Linked DNA regions of Homo sapiens. The protein of the gene in region 1 purifies or fractionates together with the protein of each later gene. This does not show direct contact. Each region holds a gene or a part of one and is shown on either strand. Other genes may lie near its edges.

The links. The genes of interacting proteins can lie anywhere in the genome.
Region 2: the proteins of TSPAN5 (region 1) and NAT8L purify together in Homo sapiens (affinity purification with mass spectrometry; 3 studies listed by BioGRID and IntAct, with this or other methods). This does not show direct contact.

The regions. Positions count from the first base shown.
Region 1 is NC_000004.12:98,655,606-98,663,596, forward strand, and holds the start of TSPAN5 (tetraspanin-5), read right to left. Parts: upstream 3,007-7,991; 5' UTR 2,622-3,006; coding exon 2,541-2,621; intron 2,045-2,540; exon of another isoform or gene 1,935-2,044; intron 1-1,934. UniProt on the Homo sapiens protein: Part of TspanC8 subgroup, composed of 6 members that interact with the transmembrane metalloprotease ADAM10.
Region 2 is NC_000004.12:2,054,611-2,062,343, reverse strand, and holds the start of NAT8L (N-acetylaspartate synthetase), read right to left. Parts: upstream 3,018-7,733; 5' UTR 2,833-3,017; coding exon 2,457-2,832; intron 1,347-2,456; coding exon 1,182-1,346; intron 1-1,181. UniProt on the Homo sapiens protein: Catalyzes the synthesis of N-acetylaspartate acid (NAA) from L-aspartate and acetyl-CoA. Promotes dopamine uptake by regulating TNF-alpha expression. Attenuates methamphetamine-induced inhibition of dopamine uptake.

The DNA of each region.
Region 1 (7,991 bases):
GGAAACCATGCTGTTGGCAATCTCTTCTTCATAATTGTATGGGAGTAGCACCGAGTCTGCTGTTTTTGGCAATCACAGACAGGTTGGTGACTCTGTAGAGAGCAGAGGTGTGTAACTTTTCAGAAGCAAGCTGCCAAGCTACTGACCCCAGCTTTTCAGTCACTAACATCTTAGTCTGAATTACTTTAACCAAAACCATATGGTTGCCTTTCTGTTGATCATCACTAGAGACCATGGTACAATAAAGCAGGAAATTTAAATATGGGGTAATTTTGAGGCAGAGAGCAGGATAGGAAAGGTATGAGGGAGTATCTGAGAGGAAGGCTTTGGGCACAGAGAGGAGAGGAAGGGAAGGCAAGAGGCAGGGTAAGTGAAGGGCCCTCATAAGGAAGGCACTCACTTAACAATTCTGCCTGGGGCAGCTAGTTTAGTCCCATAGCCTAGGTCTCCTTTCAGGCTTCCCATACTCACCCACCCACCTATGAAGACCTTCACAATCAGAAAACATGCGGCTCTGTTCTGGACCTCTCCAAGCAAGCACTCTGCAATTCTTTGAAGCTCTCTACAATTCCAGGGGTTTTGCTGCAACCTAATCCATAGAAAGGGCTAAATTTGTCTCTATGCACTCCACAGAATTACAGCAAACTGTCAGGGAAACAGACCCAAATCCTTTTATTTCCTTACCACCCCCTGCTAGGAAACGGCAGAGAAAGTCCCTGGGTGCTTTTTGTTGCTGGGTAGCTAAAATGTGCAACTTTTAGAAATGTTCAAGTAGAAACAAGAGGCCTGAACTCACTACCCCAAAAAGAACCAGTCCCAGTTCGGTAGTCCGTGCCTCTCCAAGTCACAAAGTTTCAAGTTCCAATCAAATCAGAATATCTTACTCAAAACCGTGGCTACCCACCACTTTTAAACATTTTCACAAATGGAGAAGGGGCAAAGAAAGAAAATAATTCCTTCTTCCTGTACTTGTAGCAGTGTTTAATTGCAGGGAGGTGGGTGACTGCTCCCGGGAATCATGCACAACACTGGCAAAAAACTGCCTGTGGAATGATCGGATATGACATCCATTCATGTGTCCCCTCATTATCTTTATTAGTCCTGAAGACAGATGACATGCTGACACGGAAAGTGGTCTCCAATCCCTTGCATTTCCCCTCACAAAACATACATGACCAATGCAAGGTATTATAATAGAAAACAGAAAATAAAATAACCTGGTAAGAGTGCGGTACAAAAAAAGAATATGAAGAGCCGTATTGACAACTATTCTCACAGATGTATATACGTACAGCAAACAGCCCAAATTAAAGGAGAATTCAAATAAATACATTCCGTGTTCAGACTGCTGTGGATAATTATTGATCCTGCAGTTGGAGCATTGTTTACCTCACACTGAACAGCAACTTAGAGAACCCCCTACCCAGACAGCCACCATCTTTACTTTCTATGGAAATGCGGGTGCCCACTGAGGAAGAGGATGAGATGGGATGAGAAGGGGAAGAAAAATAACATGGTCTTTGAACCAACGTTTTCCCCTTGTCCTGGAGAACTCTTTGTCTGGCTGCTGAACACGTTTGCCAGATCAAGGAAAAGAATCAAAACAAACAAACAAACAAAAAGAGTAGGCGTCCCAGCCTAATTACAATAGGTTCCCAACACATTGCAGTCCCAAGCAGAGCATCATTTGAATCTTGTGTTAAAGCATTTGCTCTCTCGGTTCCCCAATAAAACATGCCTCGCACACCTTCTCCTTTGCATTTCTACAAAGGTTCCCCCAAACGGCCCGCTCTGTGTCACTCCTTTAAAAATGAGGACGTGGGGCAGGAACACACTGAAATATATGTTGACGGTGACTTATTATCCTGACGATGATATATACATACAAATAAATCCCTCTACCCCGCACCCCCACTGACCAGTCCATTACGCACAGGGAGCGCTTTCCAGCTGAAGAGGAGAGCGTGCAGGAAACGTTATTTACGTGCAATTACAGGACCATATACCACGGCATCTGCATCCTACACAAAGCCCGAGATGGTGCAAGAAGATACACGCTGAGCATGGCACAGACCAGCCGCGGCAACACGGAGCCAAGCCCTCGTCCAATCAGATCGTTGTTAGAAGGTGGACCTCAGGGTCGGCCGTGCCCGATTAGCCTTCCCTATTATGACACCACGCTCTGCCCAACATCTATATCCCACCGAGAGCAAATCCAATTCGTGTGGTTGCTCATTTCTCAAACTGCCGAACCCTTTCTTTTATCTGCATCCCTGCTATTCGTTCCTCAAAAAGCCACCAGAAGGCCTCGGTGCCCCCTTTCCGCCTCGATTTCTCTTTTCACCTCTTCCCATTCCTCGAAAGGATTAAATGTTTATCTCTCCAACGCGCAAGCTGGAAAGGCGGAAGGCGAATGCCTCTATGCTGCTCCGGCAAGCGCCTGCGGGGCTGCGAAAAGTAAAGGCAACGAACAACGTGGGGGAAATCGTCGCGAATCGATCGGCCACAATAGTTGGAATCCCAGGAGCGCTCCAACTTACCCAAAATATGACATTGAAGCCAAATATGAAGTATTTGATGCAACAACTGACTTCAGGACCCTTGTAGTGCTTCCCGGACATCCTCTGGGTTCATGAAGACACTTGCCCCGGCAGCCCGAGTTTGGAGCTCCGAAGCACCGTTGCTCGGAGCAGCCCGGCGGGGAGCAGGAGCTCAGGGACACCGCACGGGGCCGCGGCGCTGGCGGCCTGGGCTCAGCCGCGCGGGGACCGACCGGCGGAGAGCGGCTCCCGCACCTCCAGCCCCTCGCGCGCCGAGGCCGCCGGAGCCGGGGTGGCCGCGAGAAAGCAGGGAAGCCGCGCGCTGCAAGCTCAAGCCTCGCCGACGCTAGCCCCGAACACAAAGCGAGCGCCCGCGTCCGTGCGCCAGGCGGTCGGTCCGTCGGTTCGTCCCCGGGCTTCGGGCAAAGGCGGCCGCGGCAGATGCTGGTGGAGACGCCGCTCGCTTGCTCGCCCGCCCGTTCGCGCGCGCCCTCCCACCCCTCGCTCCGCCCGCCTCTCGCTCCGCCCGCCCGGCCGGCTGCTCCTCCGCCCGCGCCGCCCGCAGCTCCGCCCGCCGCCCAAGCCTTGGCTAGGCGCGCGCGCGCACGGGGTCGGGCGCTCCCGGGCGGCGGTGGCACCACGTAGCCGCCTCCTTCCACCGCTCGCTTTATCCCCGCCCCTTCTCGGGCCAACCCCAAGCGCCGCTGACCCCGAACGTCGCTGCGGGGTAGGTAGGGGGTGGGAGGGTGGAGGACCGCAGGCGAGAGGGAGAAGGAAGGGCGCCCGGGGAGCAGGCTGGCAGAGTGACCGGGATTGATGAGCGGCGCAGCTCTGGAGGGACGCGGGCGAGAGGGTCGCTCCTCGGGGAGAGGGCTGGGTGAGTGAGGACCTGCGAGCCACCCCCGACACCCCTTCCAGGGTAGCCACACTGGCGCCCCCTCCTCCACAACAGGCTTATGTGGCTAGAGAAGATGCGATGCCACTGGACAGGGAAGGAAAGTCGTCGTGGACTTCGCTGAATGGAAAAGGGGGTAGTTGGGGAAGGTGGAGAAAAGAGCCACGGGAAGTGGGAGGAAAGGATGAAGGGATGGGACGTTGAAAAGGAAAGCTTCCTGAATCCCTGTGTGACTCTAACCCAACCTCCCCACCTACCGGAGAAATGGGTTTTATCCTAGAAATGGGGACGAGGAAAAAGAGATGGCTCAAGGGAGTCCTGGCCCGGGATGCGATCCTCGCCCTAGGGTCTATTGCAACCACACAAACCCGGACAGCGCACGCTCCCCCCTACCCCGACAGAATAGTGCCTAAGAAACCTGCTTGCCTCCTAACTCTAGGAAGGAATCCACAACGGATTCCAGGGAGGTCTTCTGGGGAATCTGAATTGGGTTTTTGGATCACGAACCATTAAGCTTTTGAACTCTGGGGAAGAATAGAACAGGTGGCTGGAAATTGTTTTAGAACCCTACCTGAGCAGGTGTGCTCATTAGTTGCTTATCCGCCCTCCTCCTGGAGCACTTTCATAGGTGTTGGCAAAGCAGGTACCAGTATTTCACGGAAGGAGAAGGAAGAACCGCCCAGGACTGTGTATAAATGTCTATGGGAATATTTTTAAGGATTCAAAAGGCTAGAAGGAGGTGAGATCAAAAAATTTTTCCAGCACCACCCAGTGCAACCCGATCCTGGACACAGAAATCTAAAAGATGATACTTAAATACTTGAGTTTGAGAGCCTCTAGTTATAAGGTTTCCTACGTAACAACCTCTCACTTTTCTCAAAAACTGGCTAGTTGACAACCGGCAGTCAAGTTTTGGCTAGTCAAGAAGCTACTTTTTCCTGCAATAAACCACATTTAGAGATAGTACTGGGCTTCAGCAGGATTGAGGCTATATTGAGGTCGCAAGTATGAACGAGGTACCCACAGAGATGGGAGGGCCAGGAGATCCTACTCATTCAGTACCTCAGAAGCTATGACACGGGATAACAGTAGCTTCAGCCCTTTGGATGAAATAATCCTCACTCCCTCAAAAGTGCTCTCTACCCACTCAAAACACAGGCCATACTACCACCAATCTGGTAGACTTCAAAAGTAAGGTCTTTCAGCAGCAGATTTCCTTGTTAACAGGAAGGTACTGACAAGCTTTACCTAAGCCTATTGGAGCTATGTTGTAATTCTGTATATAAATAGAACAGTCGCTGCAGGAATACTGGATGAGTCAGAAGAAAGGTCTGTCCTAAGCTGATGTGACACATTTCAAAAGGACCAGAAATTAGATGCAATTGATGACTGAGTTGATCTCTAAGTGGATTTATCTTTGAAATAAAAATCAGTGGATATCCCATATACCCGACCCCACACCCTCCCCCATTGTCAACATCCCCAACCAAAGTAGCACATTTGCTACAAATAGTGAACCTACATTGCCAGATCATTATCACCCAAAGTCCATAGTTTACATTAGGGTTCACTCTTGGGGCTGTATATTCTATAGGGTTGGACAAATATAGAATAACATGAACCCACCCTCATAGTATCATAGTATCATACAGAGTATTTTCACTGCCCTAAAAGTCCTCTGTACACCACCTATTTATCCCTTCCTCCCCCCAGTCTCTGGCAGCCACTGAAGTTTGACTGTATCCCTGTCTCCTTAGTTTTGCCTTTTCCGGAATGCCATATATAAGGAATCATACAGTATGCAGTCTTTCTTTCAATTTTGCTGTGAAACTAAAACTGCTAAGAAAATAAAGTCTTAAAAAGAAAAATCAATGGAGAAGGGAAAGGTAAGATAACTAATCAGTAATTTGGAGGGGGGGGTGGAAAAACTAATTGAATTATCTCATTTCGTATATCCAAAATAAGTTCTATGAGGATTAAGGAGTTAAATATATTTTAAAGCAGACCAGAAGGAAAAATATTTGTCAAACCTCTGTATAGAAGTATTTCTCAACTTAGAGGCAATAGAAGGAAATAATCAATGGATATGATTGGGTAATATCTTAAACACTTCTACGTGTCCAGCTTTTTTTAGTGTAAGCTAAACCAGAAAAAAAATTGGCAGCAAACATGAAAAATAAAAACCTGAATGTCTATATTATAAGTAGGGCTCATAGAGCTATAGTAAAATATAGAATCGCAGTGGTTGAGTATAAACAGAAAATAAATCATATAAGAAATAAAATATATGGGGAAATTAATCTAGTAATAAATGAAGTATACATTAAAACTAATAAAGATACAAAAATAATGAGCACTGGTTAGCACATACATTGTTGGTGTCCTTATGAAATAATATGTCCATTTGGAAAGCATTTTGGCTGTATATATCAGGTCAGAGTGCTCCTACATTTTGACTCAGCAGTCCCTCTTCTGGGAATCTACCCAAAGAAATACCCCAGCAGATGGAAAAAGTTATACACTGCAAGATGTATATCATAGCATTATTTATATTGAAGACTTGGCCAGAAATTAAAGATCAAAGAGTAGGGGTGATATCCAATTCCTTGTAGTTACTTGGACCACAATGTTCCTTCACATTCTGTGCCTCTGCACATGTCATTTAGAGTTTCTGCCTGGGGCATTCTCCTTGTCTCTTGTCTGTGAGCTGATTTCTCTTATTCTTCACTACTTTTGTTCAATGTCTCGGAGGCTCCTTCTTTATTCCCTCAACACCCGCTGTGTTCTTCCATCCCGGCACTTAAAGGCTGCCTGTAAGAACTTGTTTACCTACCTGTCTCCTCAATCTGCTGTGACTCCTTCTAGGGTGTGACCTAACCCTTGGTAATCTTAGAATCACCAGAGCTCTGCAGATATGGCAGGTGCTTGATAAATATTTATTAAAGGAATGAATGAGTCATTTGCTCACAGTTTTTACAGCTCTTGAAGATACTGCTTATAGAGTATGTGGCAATATATGGATACATTATAATGTTAAATTTTAAAGGCACTATATATGGAATTATCTCCAAGTAATATTGTTAAATTTTAAAAACAAGGAACAAAAACAGTGTACACAGTAGGCTATCATTTTGTGAAAAGATAAGCTCTGTTGGCAAAAGAATATCCATACACATATTTCCTTGTTAATGGGTAGGCTATCTATGGAAGAAAACGAAATAAACTGGTAACAGCGAGTTAGGGTGGAATGGGGGGCAAACTGGGGGACTAAAGATACTGATAGGAAGGAGACATGTTTTATTTTTAAATAACCCCTTTAGTCTGTTTTTGAAATTTGTACCATGTATATGATACACGTTTTGAAAAATAAAGCAGTCTACAAAACGGTATGCAGTTGTATGAAAAAAAGTTAGGAGTTAATTTTTGCCAAATAAGAACAGTTATAAGGCTGGGTGATTTTGTTTTCATGTTTCTGGTTTGCAATTTTTAAGTGTGGTTAAATTGCTTTTACAATTAAGAAGATAAAATTATACATAAAGATGTAAGAAAGTAACTAAGTAATCATATTTATTTCACGCAACTCCTTCACAACTCAATAAATGCTGATCTATTTTAAGGAGAAAAGGAGAAAAATTTTCTGTCTGAATACTGCTAAGGCCACCTCCCTTATAACTCTGAGGTTGAAAAATGGTTAATAAGTTTAACTACTGACAAGTTAATCAGCTCTTCAAGTGGCAGTGAAAACAGGTAAAGCGTGTTCTTCTAATAGTTGCCTGGCTGAGGAGCAAGATATGACAACAGCGTTTTAACCTAAGACACCAAACTTAACGAGCTTGTCTGTCTCCACCTGTGCTTTATTGTTCCTGCCCACCTTCCTGCCTCCCTCCTCTTGGGCTCTGTCATTGTCTGCCTCTCTGCTCCTCTCTGTTTTTCTTTTGCTTCTCTGTAGCCGCCCTGCTGGTTGCCTCCACACCCCTCCTGCCGCCTTCCTCTCAGAACCCTAGCAGCTGTGTTCAGCGTCCCCCTCTTAAAGCAGCCACATGCTCTGGGAAGACTGGCCCTCTGCGTCACATCTGGCAGTCCCATTCCTCTTGCTAATGTGTGGTTCAGGAATGGGCAGGTGGCCCAATTCTGGTCAACAAGCCATGAGAAGAATCTGCTAGAGGTTTCCTTGCATCTAAGAAATGGTCTCTTTCGCCCTTGGACTTGGTTGGGTTTGGATGTGATGCCTCGATCCTCTACAGCCTGATGACAAAGACCACACCAAGGATGGCAGAGTGGAAGGATAAAAAGAACCAGGGCCTTCCAGCCTTTGTTGTATGGCTGACTTAACCAACCTTGAAGGTGGCCTTACTCACGACTTCCTGTCAGATGAGACAAATTTCTTGGTTAAGATACTTTGACAGGGGTTTTCCGTTTCATACAACTGAAAGTATCCTGACTTAAACACCTTTTGAGGTTCTGCCCCAAGCCTTTATTGATTTTCTCCTCTTGAATCACCACCAGCATTTCTGCATTTCTCTTAGTACCACGTTTTTTCTATTCCCCACACCCAC
Region 2 (7,733 bases), about 97 Mb from region 1:
TCCCAGAAGTAGCAACCCCCAGCACCATGTGGCCCTGGGCACACCTCACTCCTCCCAAGACTCGGTTTCCCCATGTGCACAAGCAGCTCCCAGAATCCACCACGGGCCATCAGCAGCTATCCAGCCTCTGCCCTCGTGGGGTGTTCCTGCAGCCCTGCCAGCTACCCCTCCACTCCCTCACACCAGGGAGGCCACGGCCCAGAGGGAGCAGGGCCATGCCCCGTGTGCCCACCGGAGCCCCCTGTGTTGCTGTGGCCTGTGCTTCCTCATGGCCCGTTTCCCCTCCCAAGCAGAGGCTGGCCAGGGCTCAGGGGCTGCTCAGATGCTCTGTTTGGGTTTAGGAAAGGGTCAGGGAGAGCAGCAGGCACCAAGGCCGTGGCGCGGGGGTGGAGCATGGCAGCCAGCGGTGCCAGACACTGCCCCTCCCCTGACACTGACCGGGCTCCTGACAGACCCTGCCCAACCCTTTGGGCCACACTCTGTCCCTCTCGTTGGCCTACAGACGCTCCAGGATCGCAGAGAGCCTCCCACCCCAGAGAGCAGAGTCTTCACCCCTGCGGCATCCGGCATGGGGGAACCGGTGTGGCTCAGCGGCTGGGGGCCAGCCCGAGGGTGGAGAACAACCCCCACCCCCCCTAGAGCCCAGACCCAGCTCCTCCAGCTATAGAAGGCCACAGAGGCTGGGACAAAACCCTTCAGCTAAGCGGCCCAGCGATCAGGCCAGAAGTGAAGGCCAAGGCTCAAGGTCAGGTCCCCTGCCCCCACCCCATCCTCTGTGCCCCAATAGGGTCCCCGGCCCCTGCCACACAAGCCCTCTCCCCCCAGGACCCTGGCACTGCAGGCAACCCCATCCCCGCAAGGCACACCAGATGGGACCCACAGAGCCCAGCGGCCCTTGCCCCACCGCAGCAGGCGCCAGGGAGACGCATCCACAGCAGGGAACGGTGGAGCCACTGCGTCGCAGGGCCAGCTCAGGTCACTCAGCGGGAGGAACCGGCCGTGCCTCCCCCAGCCCCGCTGACACCGGAGGCCTCGGTCACCCAGAAGGCTCAGGTCACAGGGGCCCCGGCTCAGGCCCACCCACGCCGGCCCTCGCCCAGGCCTGCCCTGAGGTCGCTGGAGTGCGTGCCCCCGAGGGCTGTCTGGGGCGGAGGTCGGGGAGCGGCGGGAGCGGGACTCACCGGGCGGCTTCATGTAGTACTGCTCGATGTCCGCCATGTCCGTGTGCAGCGCGCACTCCAGGTAGGCGCGGATCACCTTGCGGCTGTAGTAGTAGCGCAGGCCCAGCAGCGCGGCCGGCACCAGGCACGTCAGCAGCAGCGAGCGGCTCACGGCGAAGCACAGCGCTGGGGGCAGAGGGCGCGGGTCAGCGGCGCGGCGGGGGTCCCCAGGCCCCAGAGACGCCACCCCGGCGAAGCCCGCTAGGGACGCCGCGCCCGGCCGCGCTCCTGGTGGAGGAGCCGGGGTCATCTCGGGTGCTTTCTACTTCTCCCTATTTCCAAGCTTCCTGCGGTGAAGACAGCCACCCCACCCACCCCCACCGCCTGGAATGAGCCTCGGCGGGTCTCTGAGCTTCCAAACACGGCAGGACACCCTCGGGATGGCCGGGCCGGGAAGGACTCTGCCCACGCTGGCCTACTGAAGCCAAGGTGGGCAGATCCTGGCAGGGAGCTGCCCCGCAGACCAGGCCCCGCGCGGGGGAGGGGGGAGGGGGGAGGAGGAAGGGGGGTGTCCCACGTTCCAGCCTCGGGCTCCAGGACCCCCTCTTCCCAGGGCCCCAGCAAGAGCCCTTCCTGGCCAGCGTCCGGGAGCTCTGAGGGCAGGGACAGGGCAGGGAGGCCCCACACCGCTTCCAGCCGCATTTCGGCTGCCGTGACCTTGGGGGAGTCGCGTCCTCCCTACGCGGCCTCAAGCGCCTCATCTGTAAAATGGGAGCGAACCCCCTCACCCCGGCAGGAAGCTCTGAGGGGAAGGGCACCCAAAGACGCTGAAGGGGCCGCCCTCTGCGACCGCCCCGGCTGTGCCAGGCGCGCGCACCCCCCGCGGCGCCGGCTGTCTTCCCCTCATAAATTAGCACCGAGCGGGAGGCGGCCTCCCCCGCCCGCAGATTATATTTAGGCACTCGCCGGGGCCCAGCCGCGGCGGGCGCTACCTGCCCTGGCACCCGCCCCCACCCAGGATGCCCGGGAGGGGACAGGGGAGGCGGTGGGGGTGGGGGGCTGCGCGGCGGGGACGCAGGTGCGGACCCCGGACCCTCCCCGGCTCCGGCCCGCTCGGGGCCCTGCGCCCATCCCCACGCCCATAGCCAGCCCTGCGCGGGGCCCGGCGCGGCAGAAAGCGGGGGGCTTCCCAGGCTGGTCCCCGGGAGCCGGGCGCGGGGTCCGCGTGGACGCCGGGGCGGGGGAGCTCCGCGCCGGCCCGAGGGACTGCGGCAGCCGGGGGCCCGGCGCACTGACCCGCCAGCAGGGCGTAGAGCAGCTGCGCGCGCGGGTGCTGCCGCAGGCCGCGGAAGGCCGTGTTAGGGATGCGCTCCATGATGCCGTCGTAGAAGATGCGGCGCGCCGCCTCCTGCTCGGCCGCACGGAACTCGCGGATGCACACGCCGCGCCCCCCCGGCGGCCCCGCGCCCCCCGCCCCGCCGTGAGGCTGAGCCACCGGGGCAGGTGGGGGCGCGGGGGGCGCGGCGGCCGGCCCGGGCGCGGCGGGCAGCGGGGGCCACATGGCGCCGGCGGCGGCGAGCAGCGCGTCCTTCTTGGCCCCCGGCAGCGCCTCATGGTCCTCGGCGGCCACGATCTTCGTCTCGCAGACCATGTCGGGAGGCCCACAATGCATGCACCCGGCCGGGCGGCGCGGCAGCGGGGACGCGGCCGGGCGGCGGCGGGCACGGCCGGGCCCAGGGCAAGGGCGCGGCGCCCTCGGACCCGCGGCGGCGGCGGCGGCGGCGGCAGCGGCGGCGGCGGCGGCGGCAGCTCAGGGGCGCGGGGCGGAGGCGGCGGGCGGCCGGGGCGCGCGCAGGGAGCTGCGCCGCATTTTGGAGAAGTATTTATAATGCGGCGGCGCCGGTGCAGTCGCGGCGCCCGCGGCCCGCAGGGTCCTAGCGTCCACTGCATTGGCTGCCGGGGGTCACCATGTGATCGCGGGGGTGGGGGAGACGCCGCCCCCGCCTCGCCGGGTGGCTCGCTGGGCGCGACGGGGCGGCCGGGCAGCGCGAGGGGCCCGGCACGGGCGGGGGCGGCGGCGCGGGCGGGGGCTCCTGGCCCGGGGGCGTCCGGCGGGGCTCGGGACCCGGCCGCGGAGCGCGTGATGGGCGCCGCCCGCCCCGCCCCCCGCTCCCACGCCGCGCGCCTGGGAGCGCCCCGACCCCGGGCCCGACCGCTGGCGATCGCGGCGCCACGTCCTCCTCCTCCTCCTCCGCGGCCGCCCGGAGCAGTCACGGCAGCGTCTCCCGCTCCGTCTCCTGCCTTTGTTTGAAAGCAGCGCCCGCGGTGGACCTGGGGAGAGGGCGCCGCGGCTGCCCCGGCCCGGAGCCCCCGGGAAGCCTCGTCCGGAGCCGCACGGGCAGCCGGAGTGGGGACGCGGAAGGGCGGGGTCTGCGGCCTGGCGCGGCGCCCCCCTGTCCGAGCCCCGCAGTGGGCACGGGGATGCGGGGCCCGCAGGACCCCTCCCGGCCCGGCCCCCGCCCCCCGCGGCCGCGCATGCGCCCCGTGGCCTCGGTGCAGGTGCAGCGGGGGCTCTGCGCCTTGTAGGACCTGCAGACGCCGCAGGCTGGGGCGGAGAAGCTCAGGTGCGGGGAGGCGGTCGCAGACCCCATCCTCGGCGCTTCTCGAACCTAGCCCCCTTCAGTTCTGCGCGACCTCCCAGCACCACCCCGAGGGCTGCCGGAGCAGAGCTTCCCCGACATGCGCGGGCGGGACGGGGCCAGGGGTCCAGGCCTGGGGACCCGCAGTCTGCGTTGTGCGGTGGAGTTGGGGCCAGCCGGGCAGCTGAGGTCACCTGAAGGCCAGGAGGGGCTGGGCCTGCCCGTGGACGTGGGAGTGAGGCCGCAGCGCCCTGGTGGGGTGGGGAGGGGCGGCTGAACTGGTCCACAGCCCCGTCCGCCAGAGAACGGGCCCTGGAGAGGGGCAGGGGACGGGGTGGGGGCGTGGGGGGGAGGGGAAGCCAAGCTGGGAAGGCGCCCCCTCAGTGTCTGGGGCCCGCTGTCAGCTTTTCAACCTAAAGGAGAAAACAGGCAAAACGAATAGAAATAGTTTGTTGGGGCCAAGTTTGAGGACTGCAGCGTGGAAGGACAGACTCAGGTTGGTCTGAATGCACGCGCTCTCATTCGCAGCAGTTGCAAGTGCGTTTTTAAAGGAAAAATGAAGACGCAGCTCCTAAATTCACCAAGAATTTGCATTAAAATGGCATAAGCTATTGATTGGTGTACATTATTTGTCACAAATTCCAGGAACATGAAGATGACGCTGAGGCGGCCAGGCGGACACTATAGGAAAGAAAAGAAAGAACAAAATGCCTTCCAGCAGTTGCCCCGGGCGTGAGTGGGGAGGCGGGACTGAGGCCCTGTACTCAGGTGTCTCTGGGCCAGATAATCTTTGAGAATCCCACATAGCTCCGGCTATTTTTCTTTTCTCATTTCTCGTGTTTGATCAAAAATTTTCTCTTCTCAAAGCAGTGATGATCGACATTCTAGATGTAAGTTTTTCTGCTGGGAAGGCTCATTCCCGGGCCATCTCACCCCGCATGGGGGGAAAGAGGACAGGTGCGGTGGGCGCTTAAGAACTTCGTGAGGCCTCAAGGCCAAGGTTGATTGGCACGGGGTCTGTCAGGCCGTCTGCTATGAAGGAGCCACGCATACCGGATGGCTTCTGAGCATCTAGCTAGCATCCTCGGGGTTTTTTGGTTGACTTTGGACATCTAGAAACACAAAGCCTAATCAATTTAAGAATGAAAAATATGGGCCGGGCGTGGTGGCTCATGCCTGTAATCCCAGCACTTTGGGAGGCCGAGGCGTGTGGATCACGTGAGGTCAGGAGTTTGAGACCAGTCTGGGCAACATGGTGAAACTGCGCCTCTACTAAAAATACAAAAATTAGCCGGGTGTGGTGGCAGGCGCCTGTAATCCCAGCTACTTGGGAGGCTGAAGCAGGAGAATCACTTGAACTCGGGAGGCGGAGGTTGCAGTGAGCTGAGATCGTGCCACTGTACTCCAGCCTGGCAACAGACTGAGATTCTGCCTCAAAAACAAGAAAAGAAAAAGAAAAAATGACACAAATAAGGGCAACTATTAACAATTTGAAATCTAGAACTGAAGAGTGCTTCTATTTTTGAAGGTAACCAGATACCTATTTTGTCTCCTTCTGGTCCTGGCCTGAAGAACAAGATGTTGAAGTTCTCCAGTGATGGAAACGACCTCTCTGGCGAGGCTGCCTGGTGTGGTCCCATCTATTGTGGTTGGAGGAAGTCCTATATTTGATGCTTTTCTCATGAAATCTCCAGGTTGGAGACCTTGAACTTTCATGTCTTCATCTCCTGAGAACTCGCCGTTAACAGAATCCTTAATTAATTTAGAATGTGCAGTGAGAAGCTCTATAGGGTCTCGGCAATAATGAAGAATATCGCCTTTAAGGGGAGCTGGTTTGGAGGCTCCTTCATCCAGGCACAGGGCCTTCCTGGTATTATTTCAAAGAGAGAAAGCTGATGTTTTCCAAACAGGGCAGAACCCCAGTTCAGCACCACAGTGGAAACACCTTAGGCCAGGGAGTGTTAGAAGCTGGTTTCAGCATTGCAGATGGGTTTTCTATTATCCCACCTGTGCGTTCCACAGTCTGGAAGATGGAGGAGGGCTGCAAGCACAATGGGAATGCCAATCCCTCCAATCCCAACCAGCTTTCACTATGCAAGGTAAGATGTCAATCAATCTTTTTTCTTTTTTCTTTTTTCTTTTTTTCAGAGAGAGACAAGGTTTCTCCATGTTGTCCAGGCTGGTCTGGAACTCCTGGGCTCAAGCGACCCTCCCACCTCAGCCTCCAAAAGTGCTGGGATTACAGGCATGAGGCACCATGCCTGGCCAATAAATCCTTTTTTTTTTTTTTTTTTGAGATGGATTTTCGCTCTTGTTGCCCAGGCTGGAGTGCAATGGCACCACCTCTGCTCACCACAACCTCCACCTCCTGGGTTCAAGCAGTTCTTCTGCCTCAGCCTCCCGAGTAGCTGGGATTACAGGCATGTGCCACCATGCCCGGCTAATTTTGTATTTTTAGTAGAGACAGGGTTTCTCCATGTTGGTCAGGCTGATCTCAAACTCCCAACCTCAGGCGATCCGCCCGCCTCAGCCTCCCAAAGTGCTGGGATTATAGGCATGAGCCACCGCGCCCAGCCCAATAAATCTTTTATAACGTCTCACAGTTTACCCCATTCTCTTTCTTTCCACAGCTTTCTATATCCACTCTTATCTATCATTCGTTTTTATCCCTTCAACTAAACCTTTAAAAACCTCTAGACAAATTTACTCTTCCCATAACAAAAACCACATTTTCATGCCTTCTTTATAATCTTTACCAAAGACATAACCTATTTTTCTTACATGCTCTGTATTCAGAATTGTTTCTTTTACATCTAGTAGTTTTAATTATATATATAAACTACAGTGTTTTTTGAGACAGGGTCTCCCTGTTCTTGCTCAGGCTGGAGTGCAACGGTGTGATCTTGGCTCACTGCAGCCTCTGCCTCCTGAGCTCAAACAATCCTCCTGCCTCAGCCTCCCAAGTAGATGGCACTACAGACCTGCACCACCACGCCTGGCTAATTTTTGTATTTTGTGTAGAGACAGGGTTTTGCCACGTTGCACAGGCTGGTCTCCAACTCCTGGATTCAAGTGATCTGTCTGCCTTGGTCTCCCAAAGTGCATTAACTACAATTGTAAGTCAGTAACTTCAAGTTTAGTGAAAAACCTAGGAAGGAATTTTGAACTGTTTTATATCAGCATTTTTAGATGGAAACCATTTCTTTTTTTTTTTTTTTTTTTTTTTTTAGAGTCTTGCTCTGTCGCCCAGGCTGGAGTGCAGTGGTGTGATCTTGGCTCAGTGCAAGCTCCGCCTCCCATGTTCATGCCATTCTCTTGCCTCAGCCTCCCGAGTAGCTGGGACTACAGGCTCCCACCACCACGCCCAGCTAATTTTTTTGTATTTTTAGTAGAGATGGGGTTTCACTGTGTTAGGCAGGATGGTCTCGATCTCCTGACCTCGTGATCTGCCCAACTCAGCCTCCCAAAGTGCTGGGATTACAGGAGTGAGCCACCGCACCCGGCCCATTTAATAATTTTTTAGGAAGATGTTTCCTCAATTTTTTGCTTATTAACAGATCTAAATATTTTTAACTTTTCTATACCATATAAAAATACAATGCCAACGTATATCAATTTAAAATTGTGTTTAATGATTGTTTCAGTATTTTAACTGACTTAAAAATAACCTCAGACATGTTGTGGCCGGGCGCGGTGGCTCATGCCTGTAATTCCAGCACTTTGGGAGGCCGAGGCAGGCGGATCACGAGGTCAAGAGATCGAGACCATCCTGGCCAACGTGGTGAAACCCCGTCTCTACTAAAAATACAAAAATTAGCTGGGCATGGTGGCGGGCGCCTGTAGTCCCAGCTACCCAGGAGGCTGAGGCAGGAGAATCGCTTGAACCCAGGAGGCGGAGATTGCAGTGAGCTGAGATCGTGCCACTGCACTCCAG